7 linked regions of the Homo sapiens genome follow. The protein of the gene in region 1 interacts with the protein of each later gene in a pairwise test. Each region holds a gene or a part of one and is shown on either strand. Other genes may lie near its edges.

Region 1 (3,500 bases):
TTTTTATTTCTTTTTTTTTAAGTTTATTTTTTTCTTTCCTTGTTTCCATTGGGCTTGGATTGGATTCTTTCTGTTATTAGAATTGTTATGAACTTTCCAGTGATTTAATCAAAGCGTCTCTTGACAGATGATCTGCCTCGGATGCGATTCAAGTGCCCGTACTGCACACATGTGGTGAAGCGGAAGGCAGACCTAAAGCGCCACCTTCGTTGTCATACAGGAGAAAGGCCCTATCCATGTCAAGCTTGTGGAAAAAGATTTAGCAGGCTAGACCATCTAAGTAGCCATTTTCGAACAGTATGTATGATTTTTTTTCATCGTTTTACTAATTCTTTTTTGGTTTTTGTTTTTGTTTTTTTGAGATGGAGTTTCACTCTTGTTGCCAGGCTGGAGTACAATGGTGTAATCTCAGCTCGCTGCAACCTCTGCCTCCCGGGTTCAAGCAATTCTCCTGCCTCAGCCTCCCAAGTAGTTGGGATACAGGTGTGTGCCACCACGCCTGGCTAATTTTTGTATTTTTAGTAGAGATGGGGTTTCACCACATTGGCCTGGCTGGTCTCAAACACCCAACCTCAGGTGATTCACCTGCCTCAGCCTCCCAAAAGTGCTGGGATTACAGGCATGAGCCACCACGCCCGGCCTTGTTTTGTTTTTTTTTTTTGAGACAGGGTCTCTCTCTATCGCCCAAGCTGGAGTGCAGTGGTGCCATCTCAGCTCACTGCAGCTTTTGTTTTTTTTTTTGAGACAGGGTCTCTCTCTATCGCCCAAGCTGGAGTGCAGTGGTGCCATCTCAGCTCACTGCAGCCGCGACTTCTCAGGCTCAAATTATCCTCCCGCCTCAGCCTCCTGAGTAGCTGGGACTACAGGCCTGCACCAACATGCCAGGCTAATTTTTGTATTTTTATATTTTTTGTAGAGATGGGGTTTCATCATGTTGCCCAGGCTGGTCTTGAACTCCTGGGGTCAAGTGATCCACCTGCCTCAGCCTCCCAAAATGCTGGGGTTACAGGCGTGAGCCACAGTACCTGGCCCATCATTTTACTTCTTAAGAAATATGTACAGTTGGCCAGGCACAGTGGCTCACACACGTAATCCCAGCACTTCGGGAGGCCAAGGCGGGCAGATTGCTTGAGGCCAGTTCAGTTCAAGACCAGCCTGGTTGGCTGGGCGCGGTGGCTCACGCCTGTAATCCCAGCACTTTGGGAGGCCGAGGCAGGCGGATCATGAGGTCAGGAGATCGAGACCATCCTGGCTAACATGGTGAAACCCCGTCTCTACTAAAAATACAAAAAAATTAGCCAGGCGTGGTGGCGGGCGCCTGCAATCCCAGCTACTCAGGAGGCTGAGGCAGGAGAATGGTGTGAACCTGGGAGGCGGAGCTTGCAGTGAGCCGAGATTGCATCACTGCACTCCAGCCTGGGCGACTGAGCGAGACTCCATCTCAAAAAAAAAAAAAAGACCAGCCTGGCTAACATGGTGAAACCCCATCCACCAAAAATACAAAAATTAGCTGGCATGGTAGCGCACACCTATAATCCCAGCTACTCAGGAGGCTGAGGCACGAGAATTGCCCAAACCCAGGAAGTGGAGGTTACAGTGAGCTGAGATCGCGCCACTGCACTCCAGCCTGAATGACAGAGTGAGACACTGTCTAAAACAAAAAACAAACAAAAAAAATACATTTATGGGCTTTAGGATCATCTCATTTGCTGAGGGAAATGTTTTCACACAACTCTACCATATTTAAAATTCTTCCAACTTAGTGTTTTTACTTTGCACGTAAAGCATAATTATGTATATTGATTTTTAATCTCCTTCAAGACCTTGAAGTGGGGTATATTCTTTTGATGGTAAATAGTTTTATATTTCCATTTTAATTCACTTAGTCTAATATGTTTTTATATACTGGTCTGTTCAGAGCCAAAGATAATATAAACTGTATAAATGCTTTAAGTGTCTAGGTCAGAATCACCACTGTAGATACTCAGCATCTACCAGTGATTACTGAATCCTTGTCTGGTAGGATTTCAGTCTAGTTGCGGCTGTCCAACCAAAGGAGGTCTCCACTACACCTGCTTTCTTTTTTCTTTTTTTTTTTGAGACAGAGTCTCGCTCTGTTGCCCAGGCTGGAGTGTAATGGCGTGATCTTGCCCCACTGCAACCTCTGCCTCCCAGGTTCAAACAATTCTCCTGTCTCAGCCTCCCGAGTAGCTGGGACTACAGGTGCCCACCTAGTTTTTGTATTTTTAGTAGAGATGGGGTTTCACCATGTTGGCCAGGCTGGTCTTGAATTCCTGACCTCAAGTGATCCATCCACCTCGGCCTCCCAAAGTACTGGGATTACAGGCGTGAGCCACCACGTCTGCTGGTCTTATATTTTTAGATATCATATGGTCTCAGGAATTTGAGGAATTGTATTGGTTTATTATGTTTGGATCCACAATTATTATTCCTTTTGACACTCAAATTTTTAGTTTTATCCAGTGAACAGTCTCTACCTTGATGCTGGCTCTTGTCTCCTTTTGTCACAACTCCATTAAATTTTGAAAGTGTCCTTGTTCTCTGGCTCCAAAAGAGGCCTAGACTCACTTTGTACTTTCCCTACCACAGAGCTGGAATCAGCCATTTCTCAATCCATTTCCTTTAGTGGAAAGTGAAATTAGAGCCCAAAGTCTGGGCAGTCATTGTTACGGAGGTGTCATTTCTTTTACACTATTTCAGTGGATAGAGTTAGAAGATACATATTTTGGAGGGATGGACATGAATCTGTATCAGAGCTTGTAACAAAAACAATACCACATTTGATACCCATAGTTTTGTTTGTTTGTTTGTTTGTTTTTTGAGACAGAGTCTCGTTCTGTCATCCAGGCTGGAGTGCAGTGGCACGATCTCAGCTTACCACAACCTCCACCTGCTGGGTTCAAGTGATTCTCCTGCCTTGGCCTCCCGAGTAGCTGGGATTACAAGCACATATCCGGCTAATTTTTTTTTTTTTTTTTGTATTTTTAGTAGAGATGGGGTTTCACCATGTTGGCCAGGCTGGTCTTGAACTCCTGGCCTCAAGTGATCCACCCACCTCCACTTCCCAAAGTGCTGGGATTACAGATGTGAGCTACTACGCCCAGCCTAATACGCATAATATTACTATCTCAGGAGAAATCAGAATTCATTCAAATCATGTACTTTTAATGTTTACTGATTAATATGTCAACAGTTACACACAGGATAATAACTGTACTAGTGGTAATTCCATACATTTTCCTACATATTTTACCAGACTGTATTAGCTTTCTTGGATTTTTTTTTTTTTTTTTTTTTTTTTTTGAGATGAAGTCTCACTGTGTCATCTAAGCTGGAGTGCAGTGGCACAATCTCAGCTCACTGCAACCTCCGCCTCCCGGGCTCAAGTGATTCTCCTGCCTCAGCCTCCCGTGTAGCTGGGATTACAGGCGTGTGCCACCATGCCCAGCTAAGTTTTGTATTTTTTTTTAGTAAAGATG
Region 2 (2,560 bases), on another chromosome or scaffold:
TCCAAAAACTGAGATATGTGAGGAAGCTGAAAAACCCCTCATCATATCAGAAAGAATCCAGAAAGCTGATCCTCAAGGACCTGAGTTAGGAGAAGCTTGTGAAAAGGGAAACATGTTAAAGAGGCAGAGAATAAAGAGAGAAAAGAAAGATTTCAGACAAGTGATAGTGAATGACTGTCACTTACCTGAAAGCTTCAAAGAAGAGGAAAACCAGAAATGTAAGAAATCTGGAGGAAAATATAGCCTTAATTCTGGCGCTGTTAAAAATCCAAAAACCCAGCTTGGACAAAAGCCTTTTACGTGTAGCGTGTGTGGGAAAGGATTTAGTCAGAGTGCAAACCTCGTTGTGCATCAGCGAATCCACACTGGAGAGAAACCCTTTGAATGTCATGAGTGTGGGAAGGCCTTCATTCAGAGTGCAAACCTCGTTGTGCATCAGAGAATCCACACTGGACAGAAACCTTATGTTTGCTCAAAATGTGGGAAAGCCTTCACTCAGAGTTCAAATCTGACTGTACATCAAAAAATCCACTCCTTAGAAAAAACTTTTAAGTGCAATGAATGTGAGAAAGCCTTTAGTTACAGCTCACAACTTGCTCGGCACCAGAAAGTCCACATTACGGAAAAATGCTATGAATGTAATGAATGTGGGAAAACATTTACTAGGAGCTCAAACCTCATTGTCCACCAGAGGATCCACACTGGGGAGAAGCCCTTTGCCTGTAACGACTGTGGCAAAGCCTTTACCCAGAGTGCAAATCTTATTGTACATCAGCGAAGCCATACTGGTGAGAAGCCATATGAGTGTAAAGAGTGTGGGAAAGCCTTTAGTTGTTTTTCACACCTTATTGTGCACCAGAGAATTCACACTGCAGAGAAACCTTACGACTGCAGCGAATGTGGGAAAGCCTTCAGTCAGCTCTCTTGCCTTATTGTCCACCAGAGAATTCACAGTGGAGATCTTCCTTACGTGTGTAATGAATGTGGGAAGGCCTTCACATGTAGCTCATACCTACTTATTCATCAGAGAATTCATAATGGAGAAAAACCTTACACATGTAATGAGTGTGGGAAGGCCTTCAGACAGAGGTCGAGCCTCACCGTGCACCAGAGAACCCACACTGGGGAGAAGCCCTATGAATGTGAGAAGTGTGGTGCAGCTTTCATTTCCAACTCACACCTCATGCGACACCATAGAACCCATCTTGTTGAATAACAAGTAAGGAAGAGGAAGACCTCCAGCATTGGTCATAACCTTCTGCCTCCCTAATGAGACACCTCTTTGCTGTTTTCTTCCTCCTCTATAAAAGTGAGGGCTGTGTCCTTAAAAGTTATAGTTTTCAGGAATGCAGCAGAAGACACAAGAAAAGCATTTCAGAGGCTAATTTAAAACAAAAAGTAAGCACCTAAAGGCAAGGACTTTGTTTTAACTGTACCTTAAGCGGTCATGTTCTCTGAAGTGGAATGTGGCTTTCCTAGGAATGGGTCGTACAAAGCTAAGTGGTAATGATGCTATTTGGGGAAAGGTCTTTTTTGCTTAATTTTGTTTTTTAAAACTCTGATGATTGCTTGAGCAACAGGCAGGTTATCTGCCTGGTTGAATTCTGGTTGAACCGTGTATTCTAATATTTCTGGTTAAGTGGTGACTGGGTAAGGAAACCACTTGGGGTAGCAGTTCAACAATTCACTTACGAATGTTTATAAGCTTTCCATTTCCTAGGTAATTTTTTAAAAGCCAGTCAAAACAAAAACTTTACTGAAAATGGACAGAAATAGGAAATGGACTTTTTCCTTACTGTCTATACCTCCTGAACCTTGGTATTGTAAAGATCTGGGGACCTCTGGGTCTGTTCTGACCATTCCCTAGTCTCCATGGCCAAGCACTCAAGGATTGATGGACACCACACACCAGCTATATTCATTTGCCAAGATCAACAGCTCCTTCTCCAAACAACTCAAGCCCCCAATTCCCATCGCATTCCATTTGGGTGAGATGCAACTAACAGCCCCTTCCTGGATGAAGGAGTCAAAGAATAAAGCTTGCCTAGAGGCATGCCCCAGTTGTCTCTGCTGTCATTCTGCTCAAGTCCAGCCAGGGGTCTCAGTTTGGGTTTCATTCTCACATTCTGGATGGTGTTTAGAAGAAATAGTGGAGCTCTTCTCATTCTGAGAAGACCAAAGAGGGAAAGTGATGGGAGAGGGGAGGTGGAAATAAGATTCCTAAGGTCTTAATTTGATTTTTTGAGAAATTCAGAGGTATTGGAATATGAAAAACTTTTAGAAGGATGAAGAAACTGGCCAAGGTAAGATATCTTTGTTACCATTCAGCCTTTACTCCTGGAAAAATGATTTATAAAACTATGCAATAGGTAGAGTTATGTAATAATATTGCCTTGTATTTATATAGAACTTTTATTCTTTGTTGTGTACCCTTATGTATTGATCATGATACCTGGCACGTATCTCACGCTTTCACATAGATCACCTACCTCAGTCCTTACAACACTGAAACAGGTGGTTGCCCATTTACCTGAGAATGGTCATTTAGTGCAAGGCCAAG
Region 3 (3,393 bases), about 26 Mb from region 1:
GTTTGTTTTTGTTTTTGAGTTGGAGTCTTGCTCTGTCACCAGGCTAGAGTGCAGTAGCGTGATCTCAGCTCAGTGCAACCTCTGCCTCCTGGGTTCAAGTGATTCCTCTGCTTCAGCCTCCCAAATAGCTGGGATTACAGGCACATGCCACCACACCCGGCTAATTTTTTGTATTTTAGTAGAGACGGGGTTTCACCATGATGGCCATGATGGTCTCAATCTCCTGACCTTGTGATCCACCCGCCTTGGCCTCCCAAAGTGCTGGGATTACAGGTGTGAGCCACCATGCTCAGCCTATGTTGTTTTTCATTTTATTTTATTTTTTTGAGACGGAGTCTCACTCTGTTGCCAGGCTGGAGTGCAGTGGCATGAGATCGGCTCACTGCAACCTCCGCCTCCTGGGTTCAAGCGATTCTCCTGTCTCAGCCTCCCGAGTAGCTGGGATTACAGGTGCCTGCCACCACGCCTGGCTAATATTTGTATTTTTAGTAGAGATGGGGCTTCACTATCTTGGCCAGGCTGGTCTTGAACTCCTGACCTTGTGATCCACCTGCCTCGGCCTCCCAAAGTGCTGGGACTACAGGCATGAGCCACTGCGCCCAGCCTGTTATTTTTTTTTTTTTTTTTGAGACAGTCTCACTGTGTCGCCCAGGTTGGAGTGCAGTGGCATGATCTTGGCTCACTGCAACTTCTGTCTCCCAGGTTTAAGCGATTCTCCTGCCTCAGCCTCCTCAGTAGCTGGGACTACAGGTGCGCACCACTACGCCCAGCTAATTGTTTTACTTTTTTTTTTTTTTTTTTTTGAGATGGAGTCTCCCCTCTGTCGCCCAGGCTGGAGTGTGGTGGCTCCGTCTAAGCTCACTACAACCTCTGCCTCCCAGGTTCAAGCGATTCTCCTGCCTCAGCCTCCTGAGTAGCTGGGATTACAGGCACGCGCCACCACACCTGGCTAATTTTTTTGTGTGTGTTTAGTAGAGACAGGGTTTCAGCATGTTGGTCAGGCTGGTTTCGAACTCCTGACCTTGTGATCCACCTGCCTCAGCCTCCCAAAGTGCTGGGATTACAGGCGTGAGCCACCGTGCCCAGCCATTTTTTTACTTTTTAGTAGTGATGGGTTTCACCATATTGGCCAGGCTGATCTCAAACTCCTGACCTTGCGATCCACCTGCCTTAGCTTCCCAAAGTGCTGGGATTACAGGCGAGAGCCACCGTGCCCAGCCCCCAGGGACTATTTTAACTTAAAATTTAAAATTAAATAAAAATTCAGTTCCTCAGATACGTTAGCCAAATCTGAAGTGGTGAGGAACCACGTGTCTCCTGGTGGCTGAATCGGGCAGTGCTGACATAGCACATTTCCATCATCGTGGAGAATCCCCTTGGGCGGCACTGCTTTGGAGTCCCTGCAAGGCCTGTGGGGATGGCGGCCCAGTGGCATGCCTTCCAGTCCTGCCACTCCCAGCCAAGACATCACTAGTCTATCATGGTGTGTTTTCTTGCCATGCCAGGTTGGGCGGCACACTAGTAATCACCTAGAATGGGAGCCAGGGGGAAACCCGTTCGCTGTCCCTGTGCACCGTGTTCAGGGCAGCTGCTGCCAGTGGAATGCTGGGATAACCCCAGTGTCGGGGGTCCTGGGGCAGCCTGTGTACTGCTGGATGCTTGCTTTCAAGTACTCTGCTGGGGTAAGACTCTGGGGCAGTTTCCATCCCTTCCTTGGGCTTCAGCTTGCTGGACTGGCCCTGAGAACTGGGAGGGGATGGCTTCATGAAGTCATTTTGATGGGGGATGAAGATAGTTGCTGTAGAGGAAGAGGATGAGAGAGCTGCTTGGCCTCTGGAAGGTGGGAGGAGCTGTCGCAGGCTGCACAGGGGCTCTGAGGTCGAGTTCGTTTAGTTCATTGATTAAGCAGTCTACCAGGTGGCCAGCAAGGCTTTGTGGGTGCTTGGGATGCATTTAAGGGAACTAAACAAAGGTGCTTGTGCAGCCGACCTGCTTGCCAGGCAATGCAGATAACAGATAAGTCCATCTGCCTGCAGTAGACGGTGAGGAAGTGCTGCCGAAGAAGAAAAAGCAGAGGCGGGCCAAGGGGTTGGGGAGTTGTGAGTGGGGTTCGATTGCGATTTTAAGTAGCCAGGGTCTCTAGAGTCTTACTGAGAAGGTGAGATTTAAGCAAAGACTCAAAGGAGGTGAGGAAGTTGACCAAGTGGGTGACTGGGGAGCATCTGGGCAGAGAGAAGAGCCAGGGCGCTGGGGTAGGAGGATCCTGGGGGCGTGACAGGCAGCAAGGAGGCACATGCCTGATCCAGGTGGCCAGACGACACCCTGGGAGAGAAGCAGGCAAGGGGAGGGCTGCCTGCGCCTTGATAGGCCTCCCGGGCCCTTTCTCTGAATGGGGAAGCACTGGGGATACGTGAGCCAAGAGGTACTGAGGTCTGACTTAAAGGTCCTTCTGGCTCCTGAACTGAAACCTGTGGGGGAGGCAGTCACGGAGCGGGGAGACCAGATGGGCAGCTCCCCTGGCTACCTGGGAGAAGCTGTTGCCAGCCTTGGTGGGCCAGTGGAGTCAGGTGAGGATCTGGCCATGGGTTTGAAGCTCTGGGAAGACTGAGTTGCTTCTCCAATAGTCAGGACCCAAGATCTGTTTCTGCCTTCAGACAGAATGCGGTCAGCTGGGCCTCCCTGTCGGCCTCTGTGCTGGCCAGATCCATGGCAGCCTCTTAGGACCTGTGTGAGCTTCTTGCCACTGCACTCTCCCTTGCAGAGTCTCCATGCTGGGGGAGGCTTCTGGGCTTGTCCCTGCACCTTAACCAGCCGGTGTCACCTGAGAACACTTGTTCCCCTTAGAAGGGACCCAGAGGGGGCCCTGGGTGAGGGAGAGATGGGAAACCCTCTCAGCCCCCCCACCCCTGTGGCTTCTCCTGGCAGGAAACATACTGGGGAGAAACCCTTTGAGTGTCCCAAATGTGGGAAGTGTTACTTTCGGAAGGAGAACCTCCTGGAGCATGAAGCCCGGAATTGCATGAACCGCTCGGAACAGGTACTTGGGAGCTGGCCCAGGTACTTGTGGGCAGGGCACACTGGCCTCTCTGTCTTCGTGCCATCCGGGAAGGGCCCCAGGAGACTGTCTGAGAGGGGTACTGTAAACTCAGGAAAGCTGTGGGGTCCTTGGATGTCATGAGGTCCATGCCCTGGTACAGGTGGGGACACAGGTCCTGAGGGCGGAAGGGACAGGCATAGGAGGGACTCTGTGGGAGGCATTTGGGGTTGGCTTTCCTAGGCCCCTGGCCCACCTCCACCTTGGCTTTGGAGAAGGGGAGCCGCTACAGGGGATGGCAGCTGGGAAAGGCCCCCTGGCCACCCCCAGCAACCCCACTGCTGGCTTCTGTGTCAGGG
Region 4 (3,496 bases), on another chromosome or scaffold:
GCTTGGCTAAATTTTTTTATTTTTGTATTTTTTTTATTTTTAGTAGAGACAGGGTTTTGCCATGTTGGCCAGGCTGGTCTTGAACCCTGACCTCAGGTGATCCACCCCCACTGGCCTCCCAAAGTGCTAGTGGCAGGTGTGAGCCACCACACACGGCCAGAATAGACTTTAAAGCAAGAAAGCAAAAGAAAAAATGTATTAGATCCCCGAGAAGTTTCCACACAACTCCAAGAATTATTATTAGAGTTCCCACTCTCTGAGGAATTTTCAAGAGAAATTAGTTAGAATTCAACAAGAAATAAATTACTTTAAAATATTTCCAAATATGAGAGGTTTTTTTTGTTTTTGTTTTTGTTTTTGTTTTTGTTTTTGTTTTGAGAAAGGGTCTCTGTTGCCCAGGCTGGAGTGCAGTCAGTGGCACGATGTCAGCTCACTGCAACCTTGGCCTCCTAGGCTGAAATAGTCCTCCCATCTCAGTCTCACAAGTAGCTGGGATTACAGGTGAGCACCACCAAGCTCAGCTATTTTTTTTTTTTTTTTGTATTTTTAGTAGAGATGGAGTTTTGCCATGTTGCCCAGGCTGGTCTTGCACTTGGGCTCAAGTGATCCACCTGCCTCAGCCTCCACAGTGCTGGAATTACAGGTGTGAGTCACCATGCCCAGCCAATATGAGAGATTTTAAAGCACATTTTTCAATCACCATGTGTCAAAGAAGAAAATATAATGGAAGTTAGAAAATATTAGAGAATGGCCAGGTGCAGTGGCTCATGTCTATAATCCCAGCACTTTAGGAGGCTGAAGCAGGTGAATCACTTGAGCTCAGGAGTTCGAGACCAGCCTGGCCAACATGGCGAAAATCCATCTCTACTAAAAATACAAAAATTAACCAGGTGTAGTGGCACACGCCTGTAAATCCCAGCTACTCAGGAGGCTGAGGCCCAAGAATGGCTTGAACCCTGGAGGCAGAGGTTGCAGTGAGCTGAGATTGTGCCACTGCACTCCAGCCTGGGCAACGAAACGAGAGTCTGTCTCCAAATAAATAATTAGAGAATATTTTTCAATCTGGATGCAGGTGACATGGGTGTGCTCTCGAGAATCCATCAAGCATTGATGATTTGCACACTCTTTTGTGTATATGTTACACTTCAGCAAAAACATTCACAAAGGGGAAAAAGGCAAAAGATACTTAAAGCAGCCAGAGGTAAAGACACATCACCTTCAGACATGACAACCAGACAGACAGACAGCTGGCTTTTCAAAGGAACCCAGAAAACAGTTGGGTGACATTTTCAACATGCTAAAAGAAAACCACTAACCCAAATCAGAGACCCAGCAAAAGTATTTCAAGAATGAGGTTACAGTAAAAACATTTTGCAGACAAATAACGAAAGAGTTTGCCAGCAGCAGGCTAACACTAAAGAAAATTGTAAACAGTGTACTCACATCAGGCACAAGGAAAGTGATCTCAGACGGAAGGGCATGATGCAAGAAGAAATAAAAGCAAAGAAGTAGAAAATACATGAGAAAATCTAGACAAAGATTGCATAAACAGTTTCTGGAGTTTTTTTAAGTGATAGAATTATACAACAGGAAAAAAAGTCTGCAGGGAGTAAACTGAGTTAAAATGTTCCAAGTTAATGACTGTCTGGGAGGAGAATAAATAACATGGATACACTTTGGGAGGCCGAGGCGGGCGGATCACGAGGTCAGGAGATCGAGACCATCCTGGCTAACACGGTGAAACCCCGTCTCTACTAAAAATACAAAAAATTAGCCGGGCGCGGTGGCGGGCGCCTGTAGTCCCAGCTACTCCGGAGGCTGAGGCAGGAGAATGGCGTGAACCCGGGAAGCGGAGCTTGCAGTGAGCCGAGATTGCGCCACTGCAGTCCGCAGTCCGGCCTGGGCGACAGAGCGAGACTCCGTCTCAAAATAAATAAATAAATAAATAAATAACATGGATAAAATTTGTTGTTTGTTGTTGTTGTTGTTGTTGTTGTTGTTGTTGAGACGGAGTTTCGCTCTTGTTGCCCAGGCTGGAGTGCAATGGCGCGGTCTTTGCTCACTGCAACCTCTGCATCCCGGGTTCAAGCTATTCTCCTGCCTCAGCCTCCTGAGTAGCTGGGATTACACGATGCGCCACCAGGCCTGCCTAACTTTGTATTTTTGGTAGAGGCGGGGTTTCTCCATGTTGGTCAGGCTGGTCTCAAACTCCCGACCTCAGGTGATCCGCCCGCCTCGGCCTCCCAAAGTGCTGGGATTACAGGCATGAGCCACTGCGCCCAGCCAAATCTGCATTTTGATAAGTATGCATTTTACTATCTAAGGGAGCTAAAACATTTTTATTATTTTAGCACTGTAACTTTGCTTTTCTTCTTTGTTTTGTTTTTTTGAGACAGAGTCTCACTCTGTCGCCCAGGCTGGAGTGCAGTGGCGTGATCTCAGCTCACTGCAACCTCCACCTCCTGGGTTCAAGCAATTCTCCTGCCTCAGCCTCCTGAGTAGCCAGGATTACAGGTGCACGCCACCACACCCAGCTAATTTATGTAATTTTATAGAGTTGTGGTTTCACCATATTGGCCAAGCTGGTCTAGAACTCCTGGCCTCAAGTGATCCACCTGCCTCGGCCTCCCAAAGTGCGGGGAGACCAGAATTCCACCCAGAATGACCTCTCTGTTCCTAGGAGTGTGACAGCATTTGGGGGGGAAAATAGCGTAGAGTTGGAATTTTTAAAATTCAGTTTGACAAAATGACTTTTAGCTGGAGCATTAAGTCCCTTTACATTTAATGTAATAACTGATATTACATTTAAGTATAAATTTAAATCTACCGTCTTACTTTGTTTTCTATTTTTGTCCTTTCTATGTTCTCTTTTATGTCCTCTCTGGATTTATTACAGATTGTTTGTGGCTTTTAAAAAAAGTCATTGCTTGAATGATGAGAGCTTATATTTAAAAAGGCAGGGGGCTAAAATAAATAAATAATTTAAAAAATAAAAATAAAGTCATTGTTTTCCTTTGAATGTTTGAGAGTTACAATTCTAGGCTGGGCGAGGTGGCTCAAGCCTGTAATCCCAGCGCTTTGGGAGGCCAGCCCAGGTGGATCACCTGAAGTCAGCATCGTGAAACCCCATCTCTACTAAAAATACAAAAATTAGCCGGGCACAGCGGCATGTGCCTGTAATCCCAGCTACTCGGGAGGCTGAGGCAGGAGAATCACTCGAACCTGGGAGGCGGAGGTTTCAGTGAACCAAGATCTCACCATTTCACTCTAGCCTGGGCAACAAGAGCAAAACTCCATCTCAAAAAGAAAGAAATATATATGAGTAGATATTAAATGTGTACACATATATACATATATAAAGGCTAAAATAATGATCTAAGCCTCCATCTCAAGAAGTTAGAAAAAGAACAACAAAATAAATGTAAGAGCACAGAAAGAAGGAAATAATAGGGAGTAGATACAAAGAAAATGGAAAAGAAACACTCAATAAAGAAAA
Region 5 (3,500 bases), on another chromosome or scaffold:
CTTTTTTTTAAAGCTTCCCAGGTGGTAAAAAGCATGCAGCTAAATTGAGAACATCCACCTACACTATGACTTCCTACTCCCAGCTCTCTGGCTGCCTTGATGCTCCTCCCAGCACGTCTCCAGCTTGTCAAAAACATTTATTCCTGCCTGAGGGCCCTGTGCCCAGGGCTCCCCCTGCCTAGAATGCTCTCTCCTGGACATCTTCAATGGCCGGCTGGCTCACTCCCCCACTGCATTCTCATCTCCATCCAAGATGCCACCTCATCTGTGAGACCTTCCCAAACCAGTCCATGCATAAAAGAGCAACTCTCTTTCCGGCATCCCGCCCCCTTACCTTGCATTTTATTCTTCAACGCACTCACAACACCAAATGTGTTATATACTTGTCTGTACTCTGTCTTCCCTATTGAATGTTGGCCCCTTAAGGCAGGGGCCTGTCCATCTCATTCACTGCTGTATCCTCAAAGCCTAAAACAATGTCTGGTTCCCAGTAAGTGCTCAGTACATGTGTTAAAATCCATATCCTATGAGATGTTTACTGAATTTAAGAAGAAAAACTTGTATTTAAAAAACAACATCCAGGCCAGGCACAGTGGCTCACGCCTGTAATCCCAGCGCTTTGGGAGGCTGGGAGGGTGGATCACTTGAGCCAGGAGTTTGAGCGAGACCAGCCTGGCTAACATGCCAAAACCCTGTCTCTACAAAAAAAAAACACAAAAATTAGCCAGGCGTGGTGGTGCGCACCTGTAGTTCCAGCTACTCGGGAGGATGAAGCAGGAGAATTGCTTGAACCCAGCAGGCAGAGGTTACAGTGAGCCAAGATAGCACCACTGCACAACAGCCTGGGCGACAGAGACAGTGACTCCAAAAAAAAAAAAAAAAAAAGTCCAAAGCACCATAAATCAATTTGCTATTTAGATAATTCCAGTAGACAACAGAATTATTAAATAACCTGTAATGGCAAGTTTTTCTTAGAAAACTGAATAGGCTTATTTTTAACATACATTCTTTGACAAAAGGTATAAAAGATCCAATTTTCCGATCTTACATAAAAAAACTGACCTGCCCTAATCAATGCTGCCTCCTCGTCATCTCTGAAACTGATTTTTCTGGAGGTGGTGCTGCTTAAGTTTAAGTGTTGGTTCTAGGGGAGAAAGTGGAAACATTCTCAGTGTCTATGCTACATTTGTGTCTGTTACATTTGGCTGTCTTTTCTAAAAAAATAATCTTGGGCCAGGCACAGTGGCTCACGCCTGTAATCCCAGCACTTTGGGAGGCCAAGGTGGGCAGATCACAAGGTCAAGAGATCGAGACCATCCTGGCCAACATGGTAAAACCCCATCTCTACTAAAAATACAAAAAAAATTAGCTGGGCATGGTAGCGCACACCTATAGTCCCAGCTACTAGGGAGGCTGAGGCAGGAGAATCACTTGAACCCGGGAGGCAGAGGTTGCAGTGAGCCAAGATCGTGCCACTGCACTGCAGCCTGGCAACAGAGCGAGACTCCGTCTCAAAAAAAAAAAAAAAAATTTATCTTGCTGGGTATGGTGGCTCATGCCTGTCATCTCAGCATTTTGGGAGGCTCAGACAGGAAGACTGCTTGAGCCCAGGAGTTCAAGACCAGCCTGGGCAACATAGTGGGACCCATCTCTACAAAAATTAAAAAATAAAAAATTAGGTAGTGTGGTGGTTTGCACCTGTGGTCCCAGCTACCCAGGAGGCTGAGGTGGGACGATCACCTCAGCCCAGGAGGTCAAGGCTGTGGTGAGCTGTGATCGTGCCACTACACTCTAGCCTGGATGACAGCACAAGCCCTTATCTTTAAAAAAAAAAAAAAAAAAAAGTCTTGATATCACCTTCAATGCTGAAGTAAATTAAGAGTGAAACATAGAACCAGACTCAGACTCACTATTCTGTGGTATTAAATGAATTGTGACATACGAATAGTCCTCAGTAAGTGATCTCCATTTTGCTCATCTACAAGAGATGTGATTTCCCCAAAGACAGTGCTGACAACATTCTGCCTTCCAACTTTTAACTTATCTTCTTACACAACTCCCATCCAATTTATAATAAACATTTCCAAACACAGGCTTAGCAGGGCACTCAGAGAACTTCATTCTTCACTCTCCTGAAAACATCCCGTGTACTGGGGGGACAGACGAGATGGAGTTTTACCTGTGTGTGTTCGCAGATGTTTCTTTAGCTGAGACACATCCATGAATTTGCGATGGCAGTCTTTGCATTCCGGTAATGAGTGGCCTTGTCGCAACAATAAAAAAAGTGTCAGTGCATACATGCTCTCCCTGCCTTTTCTTCAGTGATTTGTGTTAAAGCACTTCCCTGAAAAATAATCACTTTAAATATAGTACTTTAACCACAAAAATTTTTTCATTAATTTGGTAACTGTTAATATTTTCCTAAGCACCTCAACTCACTGCCTCCTCCAAGAGAGCTAGGATCCTTCCAATTCTAAATGTAGTCTCTCCTTTTTTCCTCAAAGTATTGGTGTGACTGAGGCCACAAATGACCTCAAATGACACTCGTAACCCACATTCATTTCTTATCAGTTGGCAGGAAAGAAAAAGGACAACAGGTAGAACCAGGGGAGAGAAAGCCTGGGCTGACAGCCATGGGATGATGATGTCTCTGCCCAGGCACCACTAACAACCATTCACTGAAGCTCCCCTGTGCAAGTGGCACTTTTGAAAGATGCCAATTCTGTAGGGTTTCTGTGTGTGGCACCAAAACTGTAGTATACAAATAAAACATAATTCACATGGTGGCGGACAATAACATAAAAACATGTAATTTAGACTCTTAAGGCACTTTTCCCTAAATACCCTATGTGAACGATATGTGCTAAGAGCAGAACAATATAAACCTAATGTTTCAGAAACAATTCTTATTTGCATTTCTTCCCCCCCAATCTAAATGTTCTCACTTTATCGTACCTGTATGAACTCGGTAATGGCTCTTTAGCTGTCTGTTCTGGCTGAAATATTTTCCGCATTGATCACAGGTAAAAGACTTCTGTCCTGCCAAAAAAACCAAAACACTAAAACATGTAAAAAATTATAAAGAACTGGAATGCTCACTAATAAGGTAAATACTACAGTGGGTCCAGGTCCCCATTTTCTACAAATGATACAAGCGACTTGTTTACATACCCAGAAGCCTTCAATCTACCACAGAAACATAAATGTGCAAAGGTATGTAAGGCAATCGGGAGTACTGGAGACTGGGGTAGAACTGGAGAATTTAAGTTTCCCCGAAAGGCGTTCAAAGTAAAACAATTCTAAACTTTGGTGGTTTAATAAAACATGCTTGCACACTAAACTCCCAGCAGCCAGTTTATAAGCTCTAGTTTAATGATCCGTGCAGAACTCTAAACTGCACTCAGACAGATGCAAAATCCTGTCTTTCAATGACACCACGTTGGAAATGATACTAGGCTGAGAAAACACCATTTAGGTGTTGGTAATGCCCACCCTGGGGA
Region 6 (3,500 bases), on another chromosome or scaffold:
CCACCAGGAACATTTCATGGATGCTTTTGTTGGATGATGCCTTATTCTTTGACCATGTATTAACCAAGACCTTAGACATTATTTTATTGTTTTTAAAATTGTCTTTTCTTTCTACTGCAGGCAGATAAGTTGCTGTCACAGGATTTTGTGCAGATAATGGAGGATATTATTCTCACGCTACCTAAAAACAGGCAGATTTTACTATATTCCGCTACTTTCCCTCTTAGTGTACAGAAGTTCATGGTGAGTATAAATCTGTACTTGGAATCAGTGCCATCCTGTGACCTTTGAGTATGCTTTTATTTGTAATTACATCTTCATATCTGTGAATATACTTTATGCTAATTATTTCAAGCCTTTGGCTCTTTCTTCAGTTGATCAATTAAAGATTTGTTTTACGTAAATTAACTGACTTTTTAAGAAGGTTGTAATAGTAACTTAATTAAATTCCTCATCTTTCACTTAGTTTTTGGTGTCATGATGACATAGCCATTGGTGCTAGCTGAATTGATTCCGGTATTATTCTATATACAAAACAGAGCTTGAGTATCCTAAACTGAAATCCAAAATACTGCAGAATTTGAAACCTTTTGAGCCACGAACATGATGCTAAAAGGAAATGTTCTTTGGATTTTGAATTTTCAAATTAAGGATGCTCAGTCACTAAGTGTAATGCACATATTCCAAAATTAGAAAAAATTTAAAACCTGAAACACTTCTGTTCCTAAGCATTTTGGGTAAGGAATACTCAACCTGTAGTAACTTAGCTGCATTTTTGAGATCTTATATCTTAATTTATTTCTATCGGGTCGGGCATGGTGGCTCATGCCTGTAATCCCAGCACTTTGGGGGGCCGAGGCGGGCAGATCACAAGGTCAGGAGTTCGAGACCAGCCTGGGCAACATGGTGAAACCCCGTCTCTACTAAAAATACAAAAATTAGTCTGTTATGGCAGTGCATGCCTGCATTCCCAGCTACTCGGGAGGCCGAGGCAGGAGAATCACTTGAACCCGGGAGGTGGAGGTTGCAGGGAGCAGAGATCGTGCCACTACACTCCAGCCTGGGTGACAGAGCAAGATTTTGTCTCAGGGTGGCAGGGGGGAAATTCTGTAATGACAGATCATATATTTTGTTTTGAAGAGAGTTGCGTCCCTTACAGCAAGAGTTTATCGGACAGAAACGTATAGGGTATATTTTGAATTTGAGATGAACTCTGCTTTCATTTAAGACGACGACTCATCTTTTTCCCGCTCCCCCCCCAGAATTCCCATTTGCAGAAACCCTATGAGATTAACCTGATGGAGGAACTAACTCTGAAGGGAGTAACCCAGTACTACGCATATGTAACTGAGCGCCAAAAAGTACACTGCCTCAACACACTTTTCTCCAGGGTAAGAAGTAGGCTTCTGCTGTTGAATATTATCTCTCGAGTCCCAGTAAAACAGATGATTTCATCAATTTTCCCACCGTCTTCACTGTATAAAAGTTCGTAGTGTTTCTGGCTTGGCACGGTGGCTCATGCCTCCCAGCACTTTGGAGGCTGAGGCAGGCAGATCACGAGGTCAGGAGTTTGAGACCAGCCTGGCCAACATGGTGAAACCCCATCTCTACTACAAAATACAAAAAAATTGGGCATGGTGGCGTGTGCCCATAATCCCAGCTACTTGGGAGGCCGAGGCAGGAGAATTGCTTGAACCCAGGAGGCGGAGGCTGCAGTGAGCTGAGATTGCACCATTGCACTCCAGCTCTGGGCGACAGAGCAAGACTCCGTCTTGGGAAGAAAAAAAAAAAGATTAAAAAATAATTCATAGTGTTTCCTAAAAGGCAGGTTTAGTTGTTGACCTAAAGTTGATACTAAATGATTAACCAAGTCACAGATACACTTTTGAATAGTTTCTGAAATACTTTGACCTTAACTAGGGTTAATCCTCATTATTCACATATTCTGTATTTGTGAATTTGCTTAGTCACTAGAATTTATTTGTAACTCCGGAATTAATACTCAAGGTAGTTCAGCAGTCATTTGTGGACGTGTACAGTGTGGCAAAGAGTTTAAGTCACCTGACATGCACATTCCCAGCTGAGGTCGAAGAAAGCAATCTCTGTCCTCTTGTTTAGCTCTCATACTGTGAACAAGGGTCCTTTTCACAGTCTGCCATGTTTTTCAAGTTTTTGTTGCTGATTTCACAGTTTTAATTGGCCCCTACACATGGTGCTGAAGTGCTGCCCAATGCTGGTGGCATTGGTTGTGAGTATATTAAAGAAGGTATTCTTGGCTGGGCACAGTAGCTCATACCTGTAATCCCAGCACTTTGGGAAGCCGAAGTGGGCAGATCACCTGAGGTCAAGAGTTCAAGACCAGCCTGACCAACAGGCTGAAACCCTGTCTCTACTAAAAATACAAAAGTTAGCCAGGCATTGTGGTGGGTGCCTGTAATCCCAGCTACTCAAGAGGCTGAGGCTGGAGAATTGTTTGAACCCAGGAGGCAGCTGTTGCAGTGAGCTGAGATTGCACCATTGCACTCCAGCCTGGACAACAAGAGTGAAACTCCATTTCACAAAAAAAAAATAAAATAAAATATTTTTAAATGGAAACACATAAAACATAACTACTTTGAATCAGATAATCAATTGTATTACTCTTGTTGACAGTTATGTGGCCCTTAAGAAATATACTCTAATACGGTAAATCTTAGATATTATTATCTTCCATCTATTATTTACAATTTTTACAATTTACCATCTCTCTCATATCATGAGATTCTAAGTTTTAGACCATGTTAATGTTTCTTTTTTGCTGGTTCGTGTTTTCAAGATTTGGCAAACCAAATGAAGGTTTTTTTTATTTTTCTCATACTTATTTTTTTCTGTGCTCAGCTTCAGATAAACCAGTCGATCATTTTCTGTAACTCCTCTCAGCGAGTTGAATTGCTAGCCAAGAAGATTTCTCAACTGGGTTATTCTTGCTTCTATATTCATGCTAAAATGAGGCAGGTGAGTATAAAACTAGAACTTGCACAAATTTAATAAGAAATCTCTTTCTTTATTTTGTTTTAATGTTCTTTTAAATGTCCTGAGTTTAAGAATAAACTGTTCCTTAGTAGCCAAAGGACCTTTCATTTTGACCTCCCTCAGGTTCAATTTTCTAGCAATAAAATAGGGATAATAGTACATATTCATAACTTACAAGGTTGTTAGGAAAATTAAGATAAATGTTTAAATGAGTACTTTGGAAGCTGTCAGGCATGATACAAATGTAAAATTTTATTCTTCCCTTCCTTTCCATGTTTAATTCTCTGTTTAATACAGTAAATAGCCACATGTGGCAATTTAAATCAGTTAAAATTAAAATAAAAAGTCAGTTTCTCAATCACAGCCACATTTCAAGTGCTCAGTTAGGCACCTGTTGCTACTGGATAGTGTATTGGAATTGGAAGTACAGACACAAATATTTCCTTTATTATAGAAGTTTTACTGGACAGCACTGCTCTGGATTTTTA
Region 7 (3,500 bases), on another chromosome or scaffold:
TTAAATTTAGAATAATCATGGTAGAAAAAACCCACAAAATATTTCCCAATCCTGTTTATTTTCATGTTTTTCTTACCACTGTCTCTTCCAAACCCTTCAAGTCTTGTCTTGCTTGTTCTCGTCTATCTTGCATAACCCTAACAGTAGAAGAACAAACATATATTTTCAAATTTTATTCTGTATATTGTACTTAGCATGAGAGTTGAATAAAATATTTTGTGTCTGAAAGGATAAATTCTTAAATTTAAATAAATACAAGATGCCTATTTTAAACAATTTACCTGTGCTGTCTTTCAAAAAAAAAATTTTTTTTTTTTTGACACAGAGTTTCTGTCCCAAACACTGCTCACTGCAACCTCAACCTCCTGGGCTCAAGTGATCCTCCTCACCTCGTCTCCCAAATAGCTGGGACTACAGGCATGTACAATCAGCCCTGTCTAAAAAAATTTTTGTAGAGACGGGGTCTCACTATATTGCCTAGGCTGATTCTCAAACACTGGGCTCAACTGATTCTCCTGCCCTGGCCTCCCAAAGTGCTGAGATTATGGGTGTGAGCCACTGCAGCTTTGCAATTTCAAAAAATTTTCATATGCCTTCTAAACAACAGTCTATTGTTATACATTCCATATATAGCAATGGAAGAGATGAAATAAAATGTGGCAGAATTCAAAGAATAAGGAATAGTTCTATAATTTATATTTTAAAATATGCCACATGTATTATACTGCTATTTATCCAAAATGATACTGATTAATTATAGATTATAAACTGTCAAAGACTAAAATATTTTACATTACAAGTATTCTAAACAAAATTACAGCTGCAAGTTAGCAGAATCTTCATATAATCCACTCTGAACTGGTCCTGATGTTCTAACTATCCTAACAATATCAGTTGATTTGCAAATTGTCTCACAAACTCAAGGTATGTGAAAAATTATAATCATGCACTTTCTACCTGCTAAGATTCTAGAAAACTGAGTTTTGAGAAAATGAGAAAAGGTAAACCATGAAAACCTCTGTTCAAAATGGCAAGGCTAAACACCACAATGCTCTTTTATGCAAGAGAAAATTTAACAAAAACTCAGTTTTTGTGTTAGATCTTAAAATCTTCGAAGTTACTTAATATATTGTTTTAGGTTCATTTTTATGCTGGATCCTGAAGTAATATGGAGATAAAGAAACAGCAAGCAGATTAATAAAGAGAAACCTTAATCTTAACCACAATGAAATATAAGACCTTGCTTTCACTCAAATGCAAGTATATATTCCAAGTATTTAGATATAAATCAAACCAACTCAGTGGATTTAAGAAAAAATCCTTTAGCCCATACAAAGTAAAATATGTATCCACTGGCTATATCCAAAGGTAATGCCTATAATCCTCTAATTTAGCTTTTATTTTTAAACTTTAATTAAAAACAATTACTCACGTAAGTTCATGTAGTTTTCTGCTCTTTTCCTGATCTGTGGCTTTCAACTTCTCATGTTCTACTCTTAGACGTTCCTGCTCTAACATCATTTTCTGGTTTTGGCTGACGAAAGAAAAAAATAATTAACACAGTATCAATATCACAGTTTTCTCAATGTCATCATTAAAATTTCCAAACTTTTAAATTCTATAATCTCATCAAGGACTTTTCTGTTATCCTATACCCTATGGAGGAAAAGAGGAAAGGGACCTGGCTACTTGTGGACATACAAAATTTTTCGTATTTTGGTTTGAAATCATGATTCTGTTCTCCTCTGTCTTTCATCTTCCTGAATCCTTATGCCTACTTCCATCAGGTATTCATAGTAAGACCTACGCCCCAAACCTCATCATTATTTTGTTATGTTATTCTCTTCTTGGTTCCTACTCAAATTGTTGCAAACTCTGACTTCCATAAACTCTATGTATGTGCACATGGTTATGGAGGCAGGGAAATTGCTTCTAGATAAACTAAGATGACAACTTAAAAAAAAAAAAACCTTTGAAAATCCATAGAATTTCCAGAAAAGTTTTTCCCAGTTAAGAATTTTGAGTCAGGGTCTCGCTCTGTCACCCAGGCTGTAGTACAATCATAGCTCACTTCAGCCTCAGATTCCAATACTCAAGCAATCCTCGTGCCACAGCCTCCTGGGTCACTGGGACTACAGGCATGTGCCACCAAGCTCAGCTAATTTAAAAAATTATTTTTTGTAGAGATGGAGTCTCACTATGTTGCCCAGCTGGTCTTGAACTCCTGACTTCTAGTGATCCTCCCACCCCAGCCTCCCAAAGCACTGGGGTCACAGGCCATCAGCCACTGCACCCAGCCAAGAATTTTTTTAAAAAAGGAAACTAAATAAAGGATTTGGAGAAGACTGTGGTATGCAATAATAGACTTAGGTTGGGGATTTTTTTCTTTTACTGAATAATTTAGATCAAAAGACCTAAAAAAAAGCCTCAAAAATTTCACCTGGAATTTAGAAGTTTTACTCATAAATGAGAAAATTCTTTATTTTCCAAGATAAAAATGTAATTTTGATGAAAACTGCAGGTTTCTAATAAGAATATATACCATGACCATCAGTAACCGATTCTTTCCTCCTAACTAGAGAAGTATAATACTTACTCTTGAAGATCAGTAATAAGTTTTGCTTTTGCTTCTACTTCATCTCTCAAACTACTGATCTGTTTTTGATGAGTTTCTCTATGGCTCTGGATCTGCTGTTCAACAGCTTGCTAAAATTTTGGGGGGGAAAAGGATGTTAAAGTCAGACTAATCAAAATTAATACTGATTAATTAAAGCTGTTAGAAATGTGACATCAAACTTGCCTTAACTTCATTTGCAGTCTGAACCTTATTTAAGTGCTCCTTTTCCATTTCATGGACTTTCTCTGTTTGAATAGAGAGAAAATAGAAGAGTGAAATAAGCCTTTAAGGTTCCTCATATAAACCAAGGAGCAAATGGATTTTACAATAAGCATTTTCCTTAGCAATATTCAACTTCAAATTACCCAAATGTCACCTGCTCTCCAAGTTCAATGACATGTAGACTAGTATACAAGTTACATCCATTGTGTTGGTATTATGTATTCCTTTATGGTTTGTTTGGTTTTTTTTTTTTTGGCCTAATCCAGAACAGATTAGTTAAGGGAATGGTAAAGAAATGAGATAACTCCTAAGTCCCCTATGTTAAGACACACACACACACACACCCCGCTTCGTAACTGTGGGAAATCCCCAGATTGGCTATTTCCATATTCAAACAAAATCTTAAAAATATATATATATATGTTTTGACAGGCACAGTGGCTCATGCCTGTAATCCCAGCACTTTGGGAGGCCAAGGCAGGCAGATCACGAGGTCAGGAGATCAAGACCATCCTGCGTAACACGGTGAAGCCCTGTCTCTACAAAAAAGGTAAAAAATTAGCCAGGCGTGGGGGCATGTGCCTGTGGTCCTAGCTACTAGGGAGGCTGCAGCAGGAGAATCACTGGAACCCAGGAGGTGGAGGTTGCAGTGAGTCAAGAT

Evidence for each region.
Region 2: the proteins of ZBTB8A (region 1) and ZNF35 interact in binary tests that used the Homo sapiens proteins (3 or more experiments, as listed by UniProt).
Region 3: the proteins of ZBTB8A (region 1) and ZBTB48 interact in binary tests that used the Homo sapiens proteins (3 or more experiments, as listed by UniProt).
Region 4: the proteins of ZBTB8A (region 1) and AP1M1 interact in binary tests that used the Homo sapiens proteins (3 or more experiments, as listed by UniProt).
Region 5: the proteins of ZBTB8A (region 1) and ZBTB24 interact in binary tests that used the Homo sapiens proteins (3 or more experiments, as listed by UniProt).
Region 6: the proteins of ZBTB8A (region 1) and DDX6 interact in binary tests that used the Homo sapiens proteins (3 or more experiments, as listed by UniProt).
Region 7: the proteins of ZBTB8A (region 1) and KIF5B interact in binary tests that used the Homo sapiens proteins (3 or more experiments, as listed by UniProt).

What each region holds. Positions count from the first base shown.
Region 1 is NC_000001.11:32,594,927-32,598,426, forward strand, and holds part of ZBTB8A (zinc finger and BTB domain-containing protein 8A), read left to right. Parts: intron 1-127; coding exon 128-297; intron 298-3,500. UniProt on the Homo sapiens protein: May be involved in transcriptional regulation.
Region 2 is NC_000003.12:44,658,732-44,661,291, forward strand, and holds the end of ZNF35 (zinc finger protein 35), read left to right. Parts: coding exon 1-1,216; 3' UTR 1,217-2,060; downstream 2,061-2,560. UniProt on the Homo sapiens protein: May be involved in transcriptional regulation. Involved in cell differentiation and/or proliferation.
Region 3 is NC_000001.11:6,582,994-6,586,386, forward strand, and holds part of ZBTB48 (zinc finger and BTB domain-containing protein 48), read left to right. Parts: intron 1-2,925; coding exon 2,926-3,037; intron 3,038-3,393. UniProt on the Homo sapiens protein: Plays a critical role in transcriptional regulation and chromatin remodeling. Acts as a regulator of telomere length. Directly binds the telomeric double-stranded 5'-TTAGGG-3' repeat.
Region 4 is NC_000019.10:16,242,911-16,246,406, forward strand, and holds the end of AP1M1 (AP-1 complex subunit mu-1), read left to right. Parts: 3' UTR 1-2,996; downstream 2,997-3,496. UniProt on the Homo sapiens protein: Subunit of clathrin-associated adaptor protein complex 1 that plays a role in protein sorting in the trans-Golgi network (TGN) and endosomes.
Region 5 is NC_000006.12:109,473,220-109,476,719, forward strand, and holds part of ZBTB24 (zinc finger and BTB domain-containing protein 24), read right to left. Parts: intron 3,040-3,500; coding exon 2,956-3,039; intron 2,264-2,955; coding exon 2,180-2,263; intron 1-2,179. UniProt on the Homo sapiens protein: May be involved in BMP2-induced transcription.
Region 6 is NC_000011.10:118,756,665-118,760,164, reverse strand, and holds part of DDX6 (probable ATP-dependent RNA helicase DDX6), read left to right. Parts: intron 1-120; coding exon 121-243; intron 244-1,262; coding exon 1,263-1,391; intron 1,392-2,877; coding exon 2,878-2,994; intron 2,995-3,500.
Region 7 is NC_000010.11:32,018,426-32,021,925, forward strand, and holds part of KIF5B (kinesin-1 heavy chain), read right to left. Parts: intron 2,863-3,500; coding exon 2,801-2,862; intron 2,707-2,800; coding exon 2,597-2,706; intron 1,975-2,596; exon of another isoform or gene 1,535-1,974; coding exon 1,433-1,534; exon of another isoform or gene 138-1,432; coding exon 77-137; exon of another isoform or gene 1-76. UniProt on the Homo sapiens protein: Microtubule-dependent motor required for normal distribution of mitochondria and lysosomes. Can induce formation of neurite-like membrane protrusions in non-neuronal cells in a ZFYVE27-dependent manner.